Regions from separate parts of the Homo sapiens genome. Here region 2 is linked to region 1. Evidence: fine-mapped expression QTL. A gene starts in region 1. The other region holds a variant in brackets. All regions are shown on one strand. Distances are between the middles of the regions. Region 1 holds the start of CDC5L (cell division cycle 5 like). Region 2 holds the start of MIR4642 (microRNA 4642).

Region 1 (9,205 bases):
CCATTGTGTTACAATTGCCTATGGTATTCAGTACAGTAACATGCTGTACAGGTTTGTAGCCTAGGAGCAAAGGGTTATATATACCATATGGCCTAGGTGTGTAATAGACTACTGCATCTAGATTTGGTGTGAGTACATTTTGTGATGTTCTCACAACAGTGAAATCACCTAACGATGCGTTTCTCAGAATGTATCCCTGTCATTGACACATGACTGCATTTGCAAAGCAGGACAGTATTTTTATTTAAATTATTATGCATGTTTATTTGGGGAGATGATGAAGATTGTGAGAGTCATTAATCCTGCCTCTAAACTATGCCTTGCTGTTGCCATAGGCTTTTGCCCCTAATTTTAGCCCTTTCCTGCATAGTTTCTTGGTGGTGAAAAAACTGGATGAAAGGGAAACTAGAATTTTGATTACTTTCTCTGCTAAGTAAATGTCAATCCATTCAGAACCAGCTACCCAGAGAGGGGTGAGGGGTAGGGAAATGGGGACAATGCAACCTAAAAATCCTCCTGCTAACATCTCTGGTTCCCCTTTGTAAGTTGGATGGACTTCTAACCTCTTTTTCCTGAGCCAGAGTTTCCCAAATTGTGTTTCCTGAGTGTCAATGGATATATAACACAAAAGGTTTTTAGGGTCAAATTAGTTTGGAAATGCTATATAGTAAGTCCTCATTTTTATCATTGTTAGGTTTTTGGAAACTGCAACTTTAAGCAAAAGGATGTATCATGTAATCAATTTTACCATAGGCTAATTGATATAAACAAGAGTTAAGTTTCTATGGCATATTTCTGGTCACAAAACATCAACGAACTTCTAAACAAAGACCAAAACACTTCTAATATTAAACATTGAAATAAGTGTAAGCTATGCATACATTTAAGAAAGATTAGGCTGGGCACGGTGGCTCATACCTGTAATTTCAGCACCTTGGGAGGTCAAGGGGGGCAGATCACTTGAGCTCAGGAGTTTGAGACCAGCCTGGGCAACATGGTGAAACCCCATTTCTACAAAAAAATACAAAACTTAGCCAGGCATGGGGGTGCACGCCTGTAGTCCCAGCTACTCGGGAGGCTGAAGTTGGAAGATTGCTTGAGCCAGTGGGGTGGGGGTCAAGGCTGCAGTGACCCGAGACTGTGGCACTGCACTCCAGCCTGCACAGAGTGAGACTCTGTCTCAAAGAAAAGAAAAGAAAAGAAAGATTAATAAAAACAAGAAATGTACTCCCGCTTATTCCAGTTCAGGGTTACAGGTGGCCGGAGCCTATCCTGGCACAAGGCAGGAATCAGTTCTGGACAGCACACAGGACACCATCCCATTGCAGGGCACACTCACACACCCTGACACTCACTCAGACTGCAGGCTTGCAAATGAACCTCACCTGCACAGCTTTGGGATGTGGGAGGAAACCAGGGTATCTGGAAGAAACCCACACAGACAGTGGCCCTGGCCTCAAGCGGATTTTTTTTTTTTTTTGAGATGAGGTCTCGCCCAGGGTGGAGTGCAGTGGTGTGATCATGGCTCACTGCAGCCTCGACCACCCAGGCTCAAGTGATCCTCCCATCTCAGCCTCATGGGTAGCTGGGATCACAGGTGTGCACCACCATGCCCAGCTAATTTTTAATATTTTTGTAGGGATGGGGTCTCACTATGTTGCTCAGGCTGGTCTCAAACTCCTGGGCTCAAGCAATCCTCCTGCCTTGGCCTCCCCGAGTGTTGGAATTACGGGCATGAGCCACCATGCCTGGACTCATCAATGTTATCATGAAACGATCTTGCACAAAATGATGTTATTCAAGGATCTGCTGTATTAACAAAGGAGTGTATTAGCTTCCTAGGGCTGCCACAAGAAAGCACAATAAACTAAGTGGCTTAAAACAAGAGAAATGTATTCTCTTACAGTTCTGGAGGCTGGGAGTCCAAAATCAAAGTGTCAGCAGGGCTGGCTCCTTCTTGGGGCTCAGAGGGAGAATGTGTTCCATGCCTTCTCCTGGCTTCTGGTGGCTGCCAGAATCCTTGGCATTCCTTGGCTTGGAGCTGCATCACTCCAATCTCTGCCTCTTTCTTCCCATGATATTCCCCCTGTGTGTCTGTATCTTTTTTCTTCTCCACTTATAAGGACACTACTCATTGGATTTAGGGACAACCTACTCCAGTATGATCTCATTTTAACTTGATTACATCTGCAAAGACTCTATTTCCAAATAAGGTCACATTTACAGGTAGCAGGGGTTAGGACTTGAACATATCTATTTGGGGGGAATACAATTCAACTCTCAACAGGGAGAAACAGATTTTTTCATCTGACAGCTTCTTACAGGCTTTAATTTCAGTGACTCTGCAAGAGGGGAGGACATAAAAACCATGTTTTTTTTTATTTTTTGTTTTTTTTTAAATGGAGTATTTTATGTAACTGGTGTTCTAAGGAACATGTTTGGGGAAAAATGCCTTGGGTGAGTGAGACTATTTAGCAGTGGCCACTCACTTTACCAAAGATTCACAGTGACTGACCATATAGTCTGGTTGCCTAACGATAGATGCTTCTTATGGCTGTCCCTCAAGAGATTGTTGGCAGTCCCTGTGGCCTCTTTGTAAGGGTTCCCATACCTGGCTGGTGAGGCTGCAGTAGTATGGTGGGGGAGGCTGGCCAAGCAGGCCATCCTGGAGAACAGTGTGTTTGTGTTCTGATGTTTGTGGCTACAGTGCTCTGGTTTCAGACATCCTGGAACTTCCATGATGTTGCATTTTTCTGAATTCTGAAAGGGAATATACAATCTGCATGTTCAAAGGTGAAATGAGGGACAGTTGACAGGGCTGTTTTACCTGGATGAGTAAGTTGTACAATGCATGTCTCTAGGGGTGGAATTCACATAGTGGAGATGGTAGATCCAATTTTCTTGTAATAGAGTGCCCTGTTCTCAGAACACCAGTATTTTGTGACAATTTTCCAGCATGTGGCATAAAGTGTCTTGAGGAAGGGGCACCTTTTTCTAGTTCTCACAAAAGTAACATATGGTAAAGAGGTGGCCCTGAGTGGGAGGGAGAAGCCTTCATCAACTCTTGGAATGTGAGATCTGAAAGGCCTCTGACAGAGTATTGGTCCATCTCTGGAATTGTTAGGACTCTTCCTTACAAATAATAGAAACCCAATTCCAAGTGGCTAACACAAATAGGAAACTAATAATCAGAATGCAAGGACAGGAATGCAGCTGGGACTCAGGAACATGCTGGATCCAGGTACTCTGACATGGTCAGGACTTACATCTCTCTCTTTACCTGCTTTTTTCCCTTAGTCCAAAACATGGTGGTAGACAACTCCTGGGTGTCACGTGTTGGATGTTCAGCAGTCAGTAGAGACTGACCTCCTCTATGCTCCAGTGTTAAAATCTCGAAGACCTAGTATTTGATAGCACAACAGGGTGACTATAGTAAAAAATAATTTAATTGTACATTTAAATTAACTAAAAGATTATAATTGGATTGTTTGTAAAACAAAAGATAAACACTTGAGATGATGGATACCCCATTTACCCTGATGTGATTATTATGTGTTGTATGCCAGTATCAAAATATCTCATGTACCCCATAAATATGTGTGTACTATGTACCCACAAAAATTAAATATAACAAATTAAAAAAAAACCGCCCCATTACAGGAGAGGTCCAAATGAAAACATTTTGTTTGAGTTTAACTGGCCACAGGTCCAATGGTTTCTTATACACCACACAGTGGGTAAACAGCTCAAGGGCGGGCTGCCCGCCAGCATAAACCTTTGAGTGGCAAACACTACCAGGGTGGCCATGGAAAATGCCCTCTTGCTGACCATAATTGCACAGAATGTGTGTAAATAAAAGCTAAAAGGAAAAAGAAAATTCTGTAGCTCTTCCAGAAGAGGCAAACGGAGAAATGAAGAAATATAAAGAGATAGGCACTATATAAATACTAAGTACTATAAATAGGGCATTTCCCAACCCACTAAATATTTTGATATTTTCCAGGGATGGAGCCAGAGATGTTCTGGAAGGATGAAGGAGACTGCATGAGTAATTGGGGTGGGGTAGCAGAGAGTTTGCCAATCCCTACCTCACTGGGTTTTAGTTATGTTTCAGTTAATCTGCCTCCTCATTTACGAGGCGGGTATTGTTAGCTCCACTTTTCAGATGAGGATACTGAGATTCAGTAAGGTTATTACCCAAACTTATGAGAAAGCCAAGATTTCACAATATTTCAACCCAACTCGACTTTGTCTAATACCAGTGCGTACCAATGGCATTATTAATCCAGACTGGGCGATGAATTAAAAACTCTGACGTGACGTTTCTGCAGGTTTCTGGAAGAAGCCTGGATCACCTGGGGACGGGGTGAAGTTGGCGTTGCCCTCCTTGCAGTAATAGCTGCTATTGTTTTGCAGCAGTTATTATGGATCAGATACTGTGCTGGGTCTATGATCTCATTTAGCCCTTACGACAATCCTGTGAGGTTGGCATTACTATGATCTCTATTTTACAGGTTAGGAAACTGAGCCTTAAATAAACTACTGGATTTTCCTGAGTATTCTGTGAATAAATTCCTATTACTGAAATACTTGAAAGGGCTAGATTAATAAATTAACAAAGCCTTCTTCGGAGCAACTGTGCTGAAATTCCGTACGCGTGACGTTCCCACCCTCTGCCACTCGGTGACGTCACGATCAATCCCACCACTAAGTTCCCAGCCAAGCGCTACCGCCGCTATCTCGCGAGAGCCGTAGTTTCTTCCATTCTGTTTTGGACATGCGCGGGGCGTAAGGCGCTTTGGCCAGAGTGGTTTGATGGTTTTGTGTTAGTCTTCCTGCAGCTGAGCTTCCACAAGACACTTTTTCCCTTTCAGCCACCCAATATCTCGCGAGACTTGCTATTCTGCGCCCCCTCCCACCTTGCGCTTGCGCAGATCTTCAAAGCAGAAGGTCGCGCTTGGAGGAAGTGGCGGCTTTGAGTCCGGTGGCCCAATCGCTGTTACTACTTCTCTGAAGCTCCTCTCGGCTGCTTGCCGAGACACCCTGCCGCCAAGATGCCTCGAATTATGATCAAGGGGGGCGTATGGAGGAATACCGAGGTAAGTCTCCTTTTCCCGCCGTCCGCTGCCCGCCGCTCCCTCTAGCAGCTTGTGCGCACGCGCGCGGAGGTCGGGGGGGCGACGAGGAGACCCTGTGGGGTCTGCGTGGAGGGCAGCCCGGGGGCTGACCCTTGGGGCCCTTTCCGTGTGTCTGGCCCCGTGTTGTGCGAGCGCCAGTAGGACAGGGACCGTGATGTCACCACCTGGCTACTCGGCTCCAAGCTCACTTGTTAGGCCCTGAGTGAACATTTGTTGACTTGAATACGCCCCCTCCCACCCCGCCCCCCCGCCCCCCCCGGCCCCGGGAAGAACTCAGAGTTCCAACTCAGCCAGAGTTGGTCCCCCGGGGCACCATCCACTCTTAGTCCAGGCACCACGACTCTGTCTCATACTCAGAAATAAAGAAGTTGCCGTGGCCACAACTTTGTGTCTCCATTGACTTCCTTGCAGAGGGGAAGCAGTTTGAGTGCCAGGTTCAGAGAGCCCGTTTATGCCCGCATCTCTCTGGTTATCTGTTATCAGGGCATAACCTGTCTGCCATCTCGACAGATCCCAAGGTCTGTCTCTTTCTGTCACTGCCTTTGCCTAGATAGAAGCCAGAAAGGAAAAACTGGCCTAGGATAGTCTCTGTTTCCAGAAACGTAGTGGATAGTGCCATTGGTGAGCCAAAGGGCAGTAGAGTGGGAGTGAAATAGAAATTAGATTTTAGTGCGTTTTGTGTTCAGAGTGTACCGAATTTATCAGTTTCTGGAGCACATCATGTCTTTTCATGCTCTGTGTCTTTTTTTCGTTACATTTTATGGCTTCTTTTTTTTTTTTTTTTTACATCTTTTGCCTTCCTAGCGCTTGACATCTTTCTGATCATCCTTCAAACCTAGTTCGGAAACACTTCTTGGAATCTCTGTAAGAATTAATTGCACCCCCGATATTCTCATGATACCTTTTTCTTCCGTTTGTTAAAACTTGCTTTGTCTTTTTGTAAGCATCACATCCTCTGTGTGGTACTCGGTAAGTTTCTTAACTTCTGAAAGCCTCAGTTTTCTACTTTTTCTAAATTGGGATAATAATACTTAACCTCTCTTGAGGATTACACGAGTTAATACGTTTGGAATATTTAGATCAGAGTAGGGCACATAGTAGCCTCTGAGTAAGAGCTAGTTGCTCTTTCACCTCACCAGACAGCATGGCGAGAGGACCAGGTCTTGGTATCCCTAGGACCTAGGACAGTAACCAACATGAAGTAGGTTGCTCGACAGGTATTTGCAGAATGAATCAAGTAGAGTAGGTATCTGCTGTATCTATTTAATTGAAAATGTGTTTAAGTGTAGTTGTACTGCAACCAAGTTACAAAAAAGACAATGAAAACTGCCTCAGCTTCCACCGAGGGAACCAGACTGTTTAAATTGGAGAAGAGATGACTTCTGAGGGAGAGACAGATATAAAATCAAGTAACAGTAGGATTCCTATGCAGTGGTCAAAGCTCTGCAGTCTTTTTAAAAAGTATCTTTGATCATGGGAGATGTAGAGGATGGAGTGGGGTATCTCAAGAGGCACGTACCTCAAATCCAATGTGGGAAAAAAAGCCTAGAAGTAAAATCGCCTAAGTGCATGCATCTATGGCTCCATTAACTTTCTTGTCTTTGGCTTGGCTTGCCAGGCTTCCTTGAGGTTGGTGCATTCCACATGGCAATGGGTGCCCTGGTGAAATGGTATCTAGAGATGGGGGGAAATTGGAAGGAGAGCTGACTAGTGGGGTTGGGGTAGAAATATGTAATTCTTAGGTTAGACCTGAGATGTGGATTCTTGGGTCATAGTTGGGGTTAAGGGGCTGGAGGGGAAATGCCATGTATAAACTTGAGACAGGAGGCTTGGATTGGAGAATATATTCACCAGAGTCCCAACTTGCTTCTTGAGGCCTGGATATGTCCTGTTTGATAAGACCTTTCCCCAAGGGAAAGGTAGATGTTTCAAGGTAGATGTTCAGGAAGTGTTTTTTGAGTGAGTGTATAAATGAATGAGTTATACATTTTTGTTGTTGTTGTGTTTTTTAGTTATCCTTTTTGAAGAGAAGGACAGCCACACGTTGAAGAATACTTTTTCTTAATTTTTGTCATAAAGTAGGGTTTCTCAGATTGGGCTGTTCCCACTCCCAATTTATTGGAGAGTGTGGTGTAAGGGTGGGTAGCTGTCTTTCTAAGGGATTTCTTCTTAATTTCTCAATTCTTGGTTGCTGTTATTATAGTTAATGAGGTTTTCATCCTTAGTCTTTTAACCTAGGTGGTGTGTATGTGCATGTTATATGTCTCTTTCTCCAATAGCCCTATCAGAGTTAATTTAAATTTTGTCTTTTCCCACTTGGAGTTTTGTGACTGAATGTACTCTTTGGCAATTTTTTTTAGGATGAAATTCTGAAAGCAGCGGTAATGAAATATGGGAAAAATCAGTGGTCTAGGATTGCCTCATTGCTGCATAGAAAATCAGCAAAGCAGTGCAAAGCCAGATGGTATGTATCAGTTTAATAAGTGGAAAACAGAAAAGGAGCTTAATTATGATGATGGAAAATGTCAACTCTGTGAACCTTATCAAAGAAAGCAGACATTGTAATATAACAAGGCATGGAGTGGGAGATGGAAGTTGGGTGTTTGACTTAGCTGTCACTTGCTTCCTGTGTGGTCTTAGGCAAGCCATTTTTCTATCCCTCTCCCCTGCCCTTGTTTTCTCCCAATTAGGGATAATAATACTTGGTCCTGACTGATAGAGATGTGAGTTGTCATCTAAATGGGTTAATGTATTTGAGAGTGCTTTGTGAAGCATACAAAGTCTACTTTCAGGGACAGATGAGCCCCAGCTTGTAAATTAATTGTGTTCTAAAAGTGCATAAGTTAGCTGTTTTAGAAATTACTTGCTCAAAGAAATAAATGATAAATAATGGCTAATTTTCTAAGTAAGCCTACAGTAGTTGAGTTTCCTCATAATACAGTTGAAATATTATATATTTTATAGTTAATATGTTATATATTATATATTAAACATACTTAATGTTATATATTATATATTAAACATATTTAATATGTTATATATTATATATTAAACATATTTAATATGTTATATATTATATATTAAACATATTTAATATGTTATATATTATATATTAAACATATTTAATATGTTATATATTATATATTAAACATATTTAATATGTTATATATTATATATTAAACATTTAATATGTTATATATTATATATTAAACATATTTAATATGTTATATATTATATATTAAACATATTTAATATGTTATATATTGTATATATTAAACATATTTAATATGTTATATATATTAAAAGATATAAGCCAACTCTGAACCTGTGGTGTCACCTCTTTTTTATTTTTATTTTTTGGGACGGAGTCTTGCTCTGTCGCCCAGGCTGGAGTGCAGTGGCGTGATCTCAGCTCACTGCAAGCTTTGCCTCCCGGGTTCACGCCATTCTTCTGCCATAGCCTCCTGAGTAGCTGGGACTACAGGCTCCTGCCACCATTCCCGGCTAATTTTTTGTATTTTTAGTAGAGACGGAGTTTCGCCGTGTTAGCCAGGATGGTCTTGATCTCCTGACCTCGTGATCCATCCACCTCGGCCTCCCAGAGTGCTGGGATTACAGGCGTGAGCCACCGCGCCCGGCTGGTGTCACCTCTTAAATCATAGGGTAGTGGACACGTGAAGCTATTTAGGGTGTTCTTGGCATGAGTTATTTAGCACCATCCCCAAGTCATGTGGCATTAGGAAAATACTTTGGATTGTATAAGAATGACCTAATTTCCTAGGCACCTGGTTAGGGGAAAGTATCAGAATGTAGAAATTGGCCAGGCGTGGTGGCTCACATCTGTAAGCCTAGCACTTCGGGAGGCCAAGGCTGGGATCACCTGAGGTCAGGAGTTTGAGACCAGCCTGGCCAACATGGTGAAAACCCCGTCTCTTCTAAAAGTACAAAAATTAGCCAGGCGTGGTGGCTACTTGGGAGGCTGAGGTGGGAGGATCGGTTGAACCCAGGAGGTGGAGGTTGTAGTGAGCTGAGATGCTGCCACTGCACTCCAGCCTGGGCGACAGAGT
Region 2 (9,205 bases), 52 kb after region 1:
TTTTTCCAGTGGTATAAGGTTATATTCTGGGCCCCCAAGCAAGAGTTTCAGTGAGGGGTGCTCTTAATGTTTCTGAACCTCACTGTAACGGACTTTTACTGAAGACAGTATTGGAGACCCAAGGATAATGTGTTTATTTTGGAATTACTTAAGCTTAGTAACCTTAACAAACTTAGCTTGAAAGTAACAGTTACACTTTCATAAGTCCCATACAGCTCCCTTTTGTAATGACCCGAGGAAACACTTATGGTTCCACTGATTCATCTCCTGGGGACCATCAGTTTTCCATTGGTCTCTGGCCAGTCTTTTTTAGACAGTTTCTCTTCTATGCATTTAAAAAAATAACATTTCTAGGCGTCTTTCTATAAATAATACCTGTGCTTTGTAGAAGTTTTAAAAGAAGTAGAAAACATAAGAAAAGGAACCTACTATCCAGACATAATCACCTTAAACATTGTGGTGTATATATGCACCCCGCCCCCCCTGCCCCCACATACTCCCATATATCTTTTTTTTTTTTTTAAATGTTTGGATGAAGGTGTTTAAAACTAAACTGGGATCATATTCTACATTTTTCATTTAATAGTTGTAAATATGATTAAACACTAGTTATATTCCACCCTACTTCTAAAAAGGTGGTAAGTGGAACCTTTTTTTCTGTATAATTTTTTTGAGAGATATTTGTTTTCTTATAGTTTTATAGCTTGTTAATAAAAGAATTTAGAATTTTAAAATACAAACTGAGGAAAGTAAAAGCTTTTCTCAGGTGTCAAAATTCTTATAAGTGGGTACATGTAGGTGAGAGTCTAAATCAGGGTAAGAATGATGGGCAGAATTGCTAATTAAGGTCTTATTTCTTGTTTACATGTGTCTAGAATAATTTATTTTTCAGGGAGCTGTCTGGTGAAATTTAAGCCATTCATTTCCACAGCTTAAATTTTTTCAGGCATGTTTGCATTTCAGGGGGCTGAGCCAAGGAGGGGGACAGTCAGTTTATTAGCAGTGGTGTGACCAGTGTATTGGACTTTCAAATAGGGCACAACTGCATGGCATCGTCCCCTGGTGGCTGTGGCCTAGGGCAAGCCACAAAGCCACTCAGTGATGATGCCAGCAGTTGTGCCCTACTTAACCTCTCTGGGTCTCACATTTCCTTATCTGTAAAATTGGGTGAGTAATAGTTTTTGTTTTTTTTTTTTGAGATGGAATTTTGTTCCTGTTGCCCAGGCTGAGTGCAATGGCACGATCTTGGCTCGCTGCAACCTCTGCCTCCAGGGTTCAAGCAATTCTCTTGCCTCAGCCTCCCAAGTAGCTGAGATTACAGGTGCCTGCCACCACGCTCGGCTAATTTTTGTATTTTAGTAGAGACGGGTTTCACCATGGGTCAGGCTGGTCTTGAACTCCTGACCTCAAGTGATCCACCCACCTTGGCCTCCCAAAGTGCTGGGATTACAGGTGTGAGCCACCGTGCCCAGCCGAGTAATTGTTTTTATTTGATGGAAGCATGAGTTTGAGATAATATAAGATTAAATGAGATACTGTATGATTAGCAAATAGCAGGTGTTAGTAAATGGGAATTCTCCTCCCATGTGTCTTCAAGTCTATATCACCCTTAGAGTTACCTAAATTGGATTATACTTGGTTTGATACTATGAGGTATTAGGAACTAACCTCACTTTAAACAATCGGGTGGCTAAGTTTTTATATTCTGTAAATTTTGAGGAATGTCTGAAGTTTTAGACATGGGCTGATTTTAGGAGAGAGATTGTTGTACTGAGTGAAGCTTAAAACTCAGATTTTGGTTAGCGTAAATAGATTTTACATCGTGGATTTTAATCTAACATTTCATGTATACATTTTGGTGTGTTGAAATAGTTGACATATTTGTAAATTTTAATGTCTCATTATATTTCACTACATTGATGTTTCATGATTTGTGGTGTATGGTCTTGAGAAAGTAGCCTTTAGAGTAGATACAATATTGAATTTGACTTTTAAAAAATCTTATAAGAATTTTCAAATGTACCCCAGAGTATACTGGTATAATAAATCCTCATGTATTCTCACCCAGCTATGACAGTCATCAATCATAGCCACTCTTGTTTCCCCTGTTATCCCCCCTTCCACTATTATTTTGAAGCAAATTTTAGATACCGTATTATGAAATAGAATTACGGTGCGTGAAATTTGTCAGCTTGGCCTTCCTACCGATTTGTATGTGGATATATTCTTAATTTCCTGCTTTGAATTGAAGTTTACCCTTTCATATTTGATCAAGTCAGCTTTAATTGTATCAAGTGTCGGTCTACTTTAAATTCCTATCAGTGATAGTGAACTTCATTTTATTTAAGACTATTAGAAATTTTTTGTCAGTACATATTTAAAGCACAGTGTGGTGGCTTCTAAAGTAAGGTGTCCATCAGGGCAGTTGCTAGTGCTTGTTTTAAAAAATTAATTTAGAAATCTGACTGGTTAAATCTGAGTCTGATTTTCCCTTTTTCTTTGAATTTTAGGAAATAAAGTTTTATACTCTCTTGTACCTCAGTGTTGTTTCTGTGTGTGGATGGGTGTTGGGAGGAGCTGGGCTGATTTAAGCTAGTCCTGTCCCTGTATGCATGTACATTTCATGCTTGAGGTTTATTGGCTTGAAAAAGACCAGAAACTGTAGGTTAGGATTTTTCCTCTTAAAGCATATTGAGCAGTCATAGGTTGAGCATTTTACAAAGCATGCAGATACCCTCCTTTGTGTTTTAATAATCAAATGACAGGCGTAAGATAACTAAGTTCAACTTGAATATTAAAAGCTGTAGTCCATTTCTTCTTTATATGTTTAATGACTATATAGTTATTTGGCTAAATTAATTTTTTTCTGTGCTTAAGTTAATTTTTGTACAATTTATGTCCATATTTGCTTGGAACCTTAGCGCAATATTTGAGCCAGAAGACTTGCAAAGCTTGAGCTAAATGAAATAAAATTGTTGGCATTAAAGGAAAGCTAACAACTTTGAAGTTTTAAAATCTCTGATGGTTTGAGTATAAGAAATGACTCCATTGGATGAGGTGAGGTAATTCCAAGATACAGGGTACTGATAATACTAAACGTACCTTGATGACTAATTAAGCAGTTTCTGAGTATAGGTATTATGCTGTAAAACCAAACTGGAAATGGACTATCCATGGAGCATAGTGTATAGCTGAGTTATCAATGAAAATGTTAATTCGTATGATTAATTTTTAAAAAGCATTATATGTATTAATTTGAAATTCTTTGCTGTTAAGGTTTTGGAATGTGTGTTTGAATCCAAATGTGATTGGAGTATGTAATAATGGGTATTCTTAGAACATGCTGAATTGTTTTACTTTTTTGGAGACAGGGTCTTTCTCTGTTGACCAGGCTGGAGTGCAGTGGCGCGATCATGGCTCACTGCTGCCTCCAACCTCTCAGGCTTGGGTGATTCCCGCCTCAGTCTCCCAAGTAGCTGGAACCACAGGCATGTGCCACTATGTCTGGCTAATTTTTGTATTTTTTGAGAGACAGTGTTTCACTCTATTGTCCAGGTTGGTCTCGAACTCCTGGGCTCAAGCGATCCACCTGCCTTGGCCTCCCAAAGTGCTAGGATTACAGGTGTGAACCACTGTTGCCTGGCTGAACATGTTAAATTATAGAAGAAGGAACTTGAATGTAACTTGATGGATTTAGTTGTTCATATCTTATTGGAAATGAGGACTTTTTGGTAGATATAGTTGAGAAAACAACTGATACCTAGCTTGTGTAATGACTCTGGCTGAAACAGAGTTTGACATCCTAATTGCCTGTTAGAATCATTTGGGAGTTTTTAAGGACACAAAGATCTGAGACCATTTAAATCAGAGTCTCTGGAGTTAGGGCACTGGTGCTGGTAGATTTTAAAAACTCCACTGGCAATTCTGAAGTTTAGCTGTGGTTGAAAACCACTGGCGTAAAAAGACATACTCCAGAAATATTTGAAGTGGAAGAGAGTGAGTACAAATTATTGTCTTCTTTCCTTGATGGTGTTGTAAAATTTATGTGGTGGAAGTTTTGTCTTTTTTTTTTTTTTTTTTTTTTAAACTCTAACTCCATCCCACTACTGCCTTTCTAGAACTTAGAAA[G/A]TACTGCTTTTGATTTCTGGGGAAAAGTATTTTTGCATTTTGTATCCAGAAGAATTGAAGATGAGGAATTTTTTTTTCTCCTGTGGAGGTAATGTTTCTACTCCTTGTATACCTTATTTTTATAATATCCTTACTGAGATATAAATTACATACCATAAAGTTAAGACAATTTAAAGTGTATAGTTCAGTGGCTTTTAGTAAATTGACATAGTTGTGCAACCATTATTGGAACATTTACATCACCTCAGAAAGAGATTCTGTATCAGCAGTTACTCCTCATTCCCCCCAACCTGCTCACCCCTAGGAAACCATTAATCTACTTTTTGTATCAATAGATTTGCCTATTTTGGATATTTCACATAAGTGGAATCATGTAATATGTGGTCTTTTGTGATGGGCTTCTTTTACTTAACATAATGTTTTCAAAGTTCATCCATGTAGTAGTATATATTAGTATTTGTTTTTATGGCTGAGTACCATTCCATTGTGTGGATAATACCACATTTTATTTATCCATTTATCAGTTGATGGATATTTGGGTTGCTTCTACTTTTACCTATTATGAATAATGTTGCTATGAACATTCGTGTACAGGTTTTCGTGTGGACATGTTTTCATTTCTCTTGGGAAATACTGGGAGTGGAATTACTTAGATACTTCCTTCACCTCATTTGAACTTCAGGGTTAGAAAATCTTCCCATAGAGTTGGGAAGCACCGCGAGTCCATGTTCTAACGCTATTTTTACACTGTAGGACAGAGGTCCAGTGTGTGTTGTTTGGTCTTGTGGTCCACAAGGGGCAAACTCCTCACTTAAAAGAAGGACCAGCTGTTTTTCCTTGCTGTGTTTCCAGGAAAGGGTCCACATAGACTTATATTGAAGTTGGAATTTTAATGAAGCTTTTAAAGCCTCATCCTTTTACTCCCTTAGTTGTTAGGGAAAAGAGCAAAATGTTTGAACTCTTAGTATCTGGAAAATAATAATGGTAATCAGACCTGACATTTGTTGACTGCTTATTCTGTGCCAGGCACTGGACAGCTGAGGCTTTTTATGTCTATGATCTTATTTAAGCTTCATAACAACTTGTAGCAATGACTGCCATTTTACTGATGGAGAAATGGAGACACATAGGTTAAATAACTTGCATCAGCTCAAAACAGCTGGGCAGCAATGCTGGGTTGTAAGAGTGACTCACTCTTACCCCGCTGTACTGTACTGCCTGCCTTCAACCAGTATATCCTAACTCCCTTAGGAGACATATAATCATTGCCATGGAACTTGGTTTGATTTATCAGAGGTTCATTTATAAAGGAAATTAACAGTTTTCATGAATTTATTGTTCAAGTAAATTGCAGAGGAATAAAAGCTTAACTTTTATAAAAATCTGAAGAAATGAATGGTTTTAAAGGAGCTTCTTCATTTAAATTAATTTTAGATCCATCTCATGTTTGTAAGGCACATAACATGCAGTGTTACTCGCCTGCCTCCACCTCCCATGGGCTTGACTTAGACTTTTTTTTTTTTTTTTTGAGATGGAATCTTGCTCTGTTGCTCAGGCTGGAGTGCAGTCGCCTGATCTTGGCTCATTGCAACCTCCGCCTCCTGGGTGTAAGTGATTCTCCTGTCTCAGCCTCCCGAGTAGCTGGGACTACAGGTATGCACCACCATGCCTGGCTAAATTTTGTATTTTTAGTAGAGATGGGGGTTTTGTCATGTTGGCCAGGCTGGTCTCGAACTCCTGACCTCAGGTGATCTGCCCACCGTGGCCTTCCAAAGTGCTGGGATTACAGTTGTGAGCCACTGCACCTGGCCATATTTTTAAAAGTTCTATTTTAATTGACAAATAATAATTGCATATGTTTATGGAGTAAGATGTGATTTTTTCCATACACATATGTGAAGTGATTAAATCAGCTAATTAACATATTAATCCCCTCAAATACATACCACTTCTTTGTGGAGAGAATATTTAAAATCCTTTTTTTTTTTTTTTTTGCTATGGAGTCTTGCTGTGTTGTCCAGGCTGGAGTGCAGTGGTGTGATCTAGGTTCACTGCAACCTCTGCCTCCTGGGTTCAAGCGATTCTCCCACCTCAGCCTCTGGAGTAGCTGGGACTACAGGCGTGTGCCACCTTGCCTAGCTAATTTTTGTATTTTTAATAGAGATGGCGTTTCACCATCTTGGCAAGGCTGGTCGTGAACTCCTAACCTCAAGTGATCCATCCACCTCAGCCTCCCAAAGTGTTGGGATTACAGGTGTGAGCCACCATGCCCAGCCTAAAAATCCCTTCTTTTAGCTATTTTGAAATAAACATGATTCTGTGATTACCATGCTATGTAATAGATCACCAGAACCTATTCTTCCGTCTAACTGAAACTTTGTACCTTTGACCAACATCTCCCCTTTCCCTATCTACCCTTTACCCCAGTATCCTCTGGTAGCCACCATTGTACTCTCTACTTCTATGAGATTAACATTTCTAGATTCCATATACAAGTTAACATCATATGATATTTGGCTTTCTGTGCCTGGCTTATCATAGTTAGCAGAATGTCCTCTGTGTCCATCTGTTGTTGCAAATAACAGGATTTCCTGTTTTTTAAAGACTGAATAGTATTCCGTTTTATGTGTATACCATATTTTAAAAATCCGTGTCTTGGCTGTTGTGGATAATGCTGTAAAGAACGTGGAAGTGCAGACATCTCTTTGACATACTGATTTCAATTCCTTTGGATATGTATAGCCAGAAGTGGAATGGCTGGATTGAATGATAATTCTGTTTTCAGTTTTTTGAGGAACCTCCATACTGTTTTCCATAATGGCTGTACTAATTTACAATACCACCAACAGTGAACAGGGGTTCTCTTTTCTCCACATCCCTTGCCAACACATACTGTTTTTCATTTTTTTAAATAACCAGTCTAACAGGTGTAAGGTAATACCTTATTGTGGTTTTGATTTGCATTTCTCTGATGATTAGAGATGTTAAGCATTTTTTTCATGTACCTGTTGACCACTTGTATGTCGTCTTTTGAGAAATGTCTATTCAGGTCCTTTCCCCATTTTAAAAATAGGGTTACTTGTTTTTTATTGAGTAGTTTGAATTTTTTTGTTTGTTTGTATATTTTGGATATTAACCCCTTATCCAGGCCGGGAGTGGTGGCTCACACCTGTAATCCCAGCACTTTGTAAGGTCTTGTTCTTTTTTTTTTTTTTTTTTTTTTTGAGACAGAGCCTCCTTCTGTCGCCAGGCTGGAGTGCAGTGGTGCGATCTGTGCTCACTGCAACCTCTACCTCCTGGGTTCAAGCTATTCTGCTGCCTCAGCCTCCCGAGTAGCTGGGACTACAGGCGCCCGCTACCATGCCCGGCTAATTTTTATATTTTTAGTAGAGACGGGATTTCACTGTGTTGGCCAGAATGGTATTGATCTCTTGATCTCATGATAGACCCACCTCAGCCTCCCAAAGTGCTGGGATTACAGGCATGAGCCGCCATGCCTGGCCTACTCTATGCCTTTTGATTGGGGAATGTAATCCATTTACAGAGTAATTATTGATAGGTGAGGACTTAACCAGTGCCAATTGTTTTCTGTTTATAGATCCTTTGTTCTATTCCTCCTCTCTTGCTTGTGTGTGTGTGTATGTTGTGTGTGTGTGTGTGTGTGTGTGTGTGTGTGTGTCTTAATGGCTTTCTGTAGTGGTATGCTTTGGATTTTATCTTTTTATCTCTTGTCTGTCTGTTACAGACTTTTGCTTTGTGGTTAACTTGAGGCTTACATAAAACAGCTTATATAACGGTATTTTAAGTTGATAACAACTTAATTTTAATTGCATACACAAACTATACACTTTTACACCCCTTTCTCCCATATTTTGTATTTCTGATGTTATACTTAAAATTTTTATATAATATTTATTCCCTTAACAAATTGTTGCACTTCAGTTGTTAATAGTTTTGCCTTTTAACCTTTATACTAGAGATATAATTGATTTACTCACTGCCATTAGAGTATTAGAATGTTTGGATATGACAATGTATATACCATGCCCTGGCCTGGATAAGGGGTTAATATCCAAAATATACAAAAAAAGTTTTATACTTTAATAAATTTTCATGTTATTAATTAGTGTTCTCTTCCTTCAGCTTGAAGAACTCCTTTTAGCATTTCCTGTAATGCAGGTCTAGTGGTGATAAAGTTAGCTATTGATTGAAAAAGTCTTTATCATCCATTTGGTTTTGAAATACAGGGTTGCTGGGTATAGTATTCTTGGTTGGCAGTTTTTTTTTCTCTCTCTTTCTTCTCTTTCTTTTTCTTTCTTCTCTCTCCTCTCCTGCCCTGTCCTGTCCCTGTCTCTCTTTCTTTTCTTTTCCTTCCTTCCTTCTTTTCTTTTCTTTTCCTTCCTTCCTTTTCTTTTCTTTTCTTTTTTTTCTATTTTTAAATATATCATCCCACTCCCTTCTGGCCTGAAAGGTTTCTGCTGAGAAGCTATCTGATAGTCTTATGGAGGTTCCTTTATACATGGTGATATGCTTTTTTCTTGCAGTTTTCAATACTCTGCCATTAGTTTTTGACATTTTAATTGTGATGTGTCTTGGTGGGTCTCTTTGAATTTATCTTATTTGGTGTCTTTTGGGCTTCCTGGATCTAGCTTTCCATTTCCTTCCCCAGCCTTGGGAATTTTTCTGCCATTATTTATTTGAATATGTTAGTTGTTCTTTTCTCCTTCTGGCACCTGATAATGCATAAGTTGTTCTCCATGATGGTGTCCCATAAGTCTCTTAAGTCACTCTTTTTCATTATTTTTTCTTTTTGCTCCTGAGATTAGATGGTTTCCAGTGACCTGTCTTGTAGTTTACTGATCCTTTCATCTGCTTGATCTAGTCTGCTGTCAAACCCCTATATTGAATTTTTCAGTTCAGTTTTGGTATTTTTCAGATCTATGTTTTCTCATTGATACTTTTTAATATTTTCTGTCTCTTTGTGGAAGTTCTTAGTTTGTTCTTGCATTGCTCTCTTGACCTCGGTGAGCATCTTTGTGACCATTATTTGGAATTTCCTGTTGGGTAAATCATATAT

What was found.
Region 2: its variant is fine-mapped to the expression of CDC5L in whole blood (INTERVAL, PIP above 0.99). The same link has a PIP of 0.9 or more in lung.

Annotation. Positions count from the first base shown.
Region 1 is chr6:44,382,770-44,391,974 of GRCh38, forward strand. CDC5L (cell division cycle 5 like) reads left to right here and starts at 4,937. Exons shown (of 16, transcript NM_001253.4): 1 at 4,937-5,099; 2 at 7,499-7,602. The coding sequence starts at 5,055. LOC124901323 (a long non-coding RNA gene) reads right to left here and starts at 5,150. Exons shown (of 4, transcript XR_007059595.1): 1 at 4,270-5,150; 2 at 3,281-3,400; 3 at 2,612-2,760; 4 at 1,793-2,342. RefSeq lists an enhancer at 4,819-5,018.
Region 2 is chr6:44,434,604-44,443,808 of GRCh38, forward strand. The region is part of intron 14 of CDC5L (cell division cycle 5 like); the gene reads left to right. It overlaps MIR4642 (microRNA 4642), which reads left to right and starts at 1,038; the gene lies at 1,038-1,119. The variant G/A (reference allele first, on the strand shown) is at 4,129.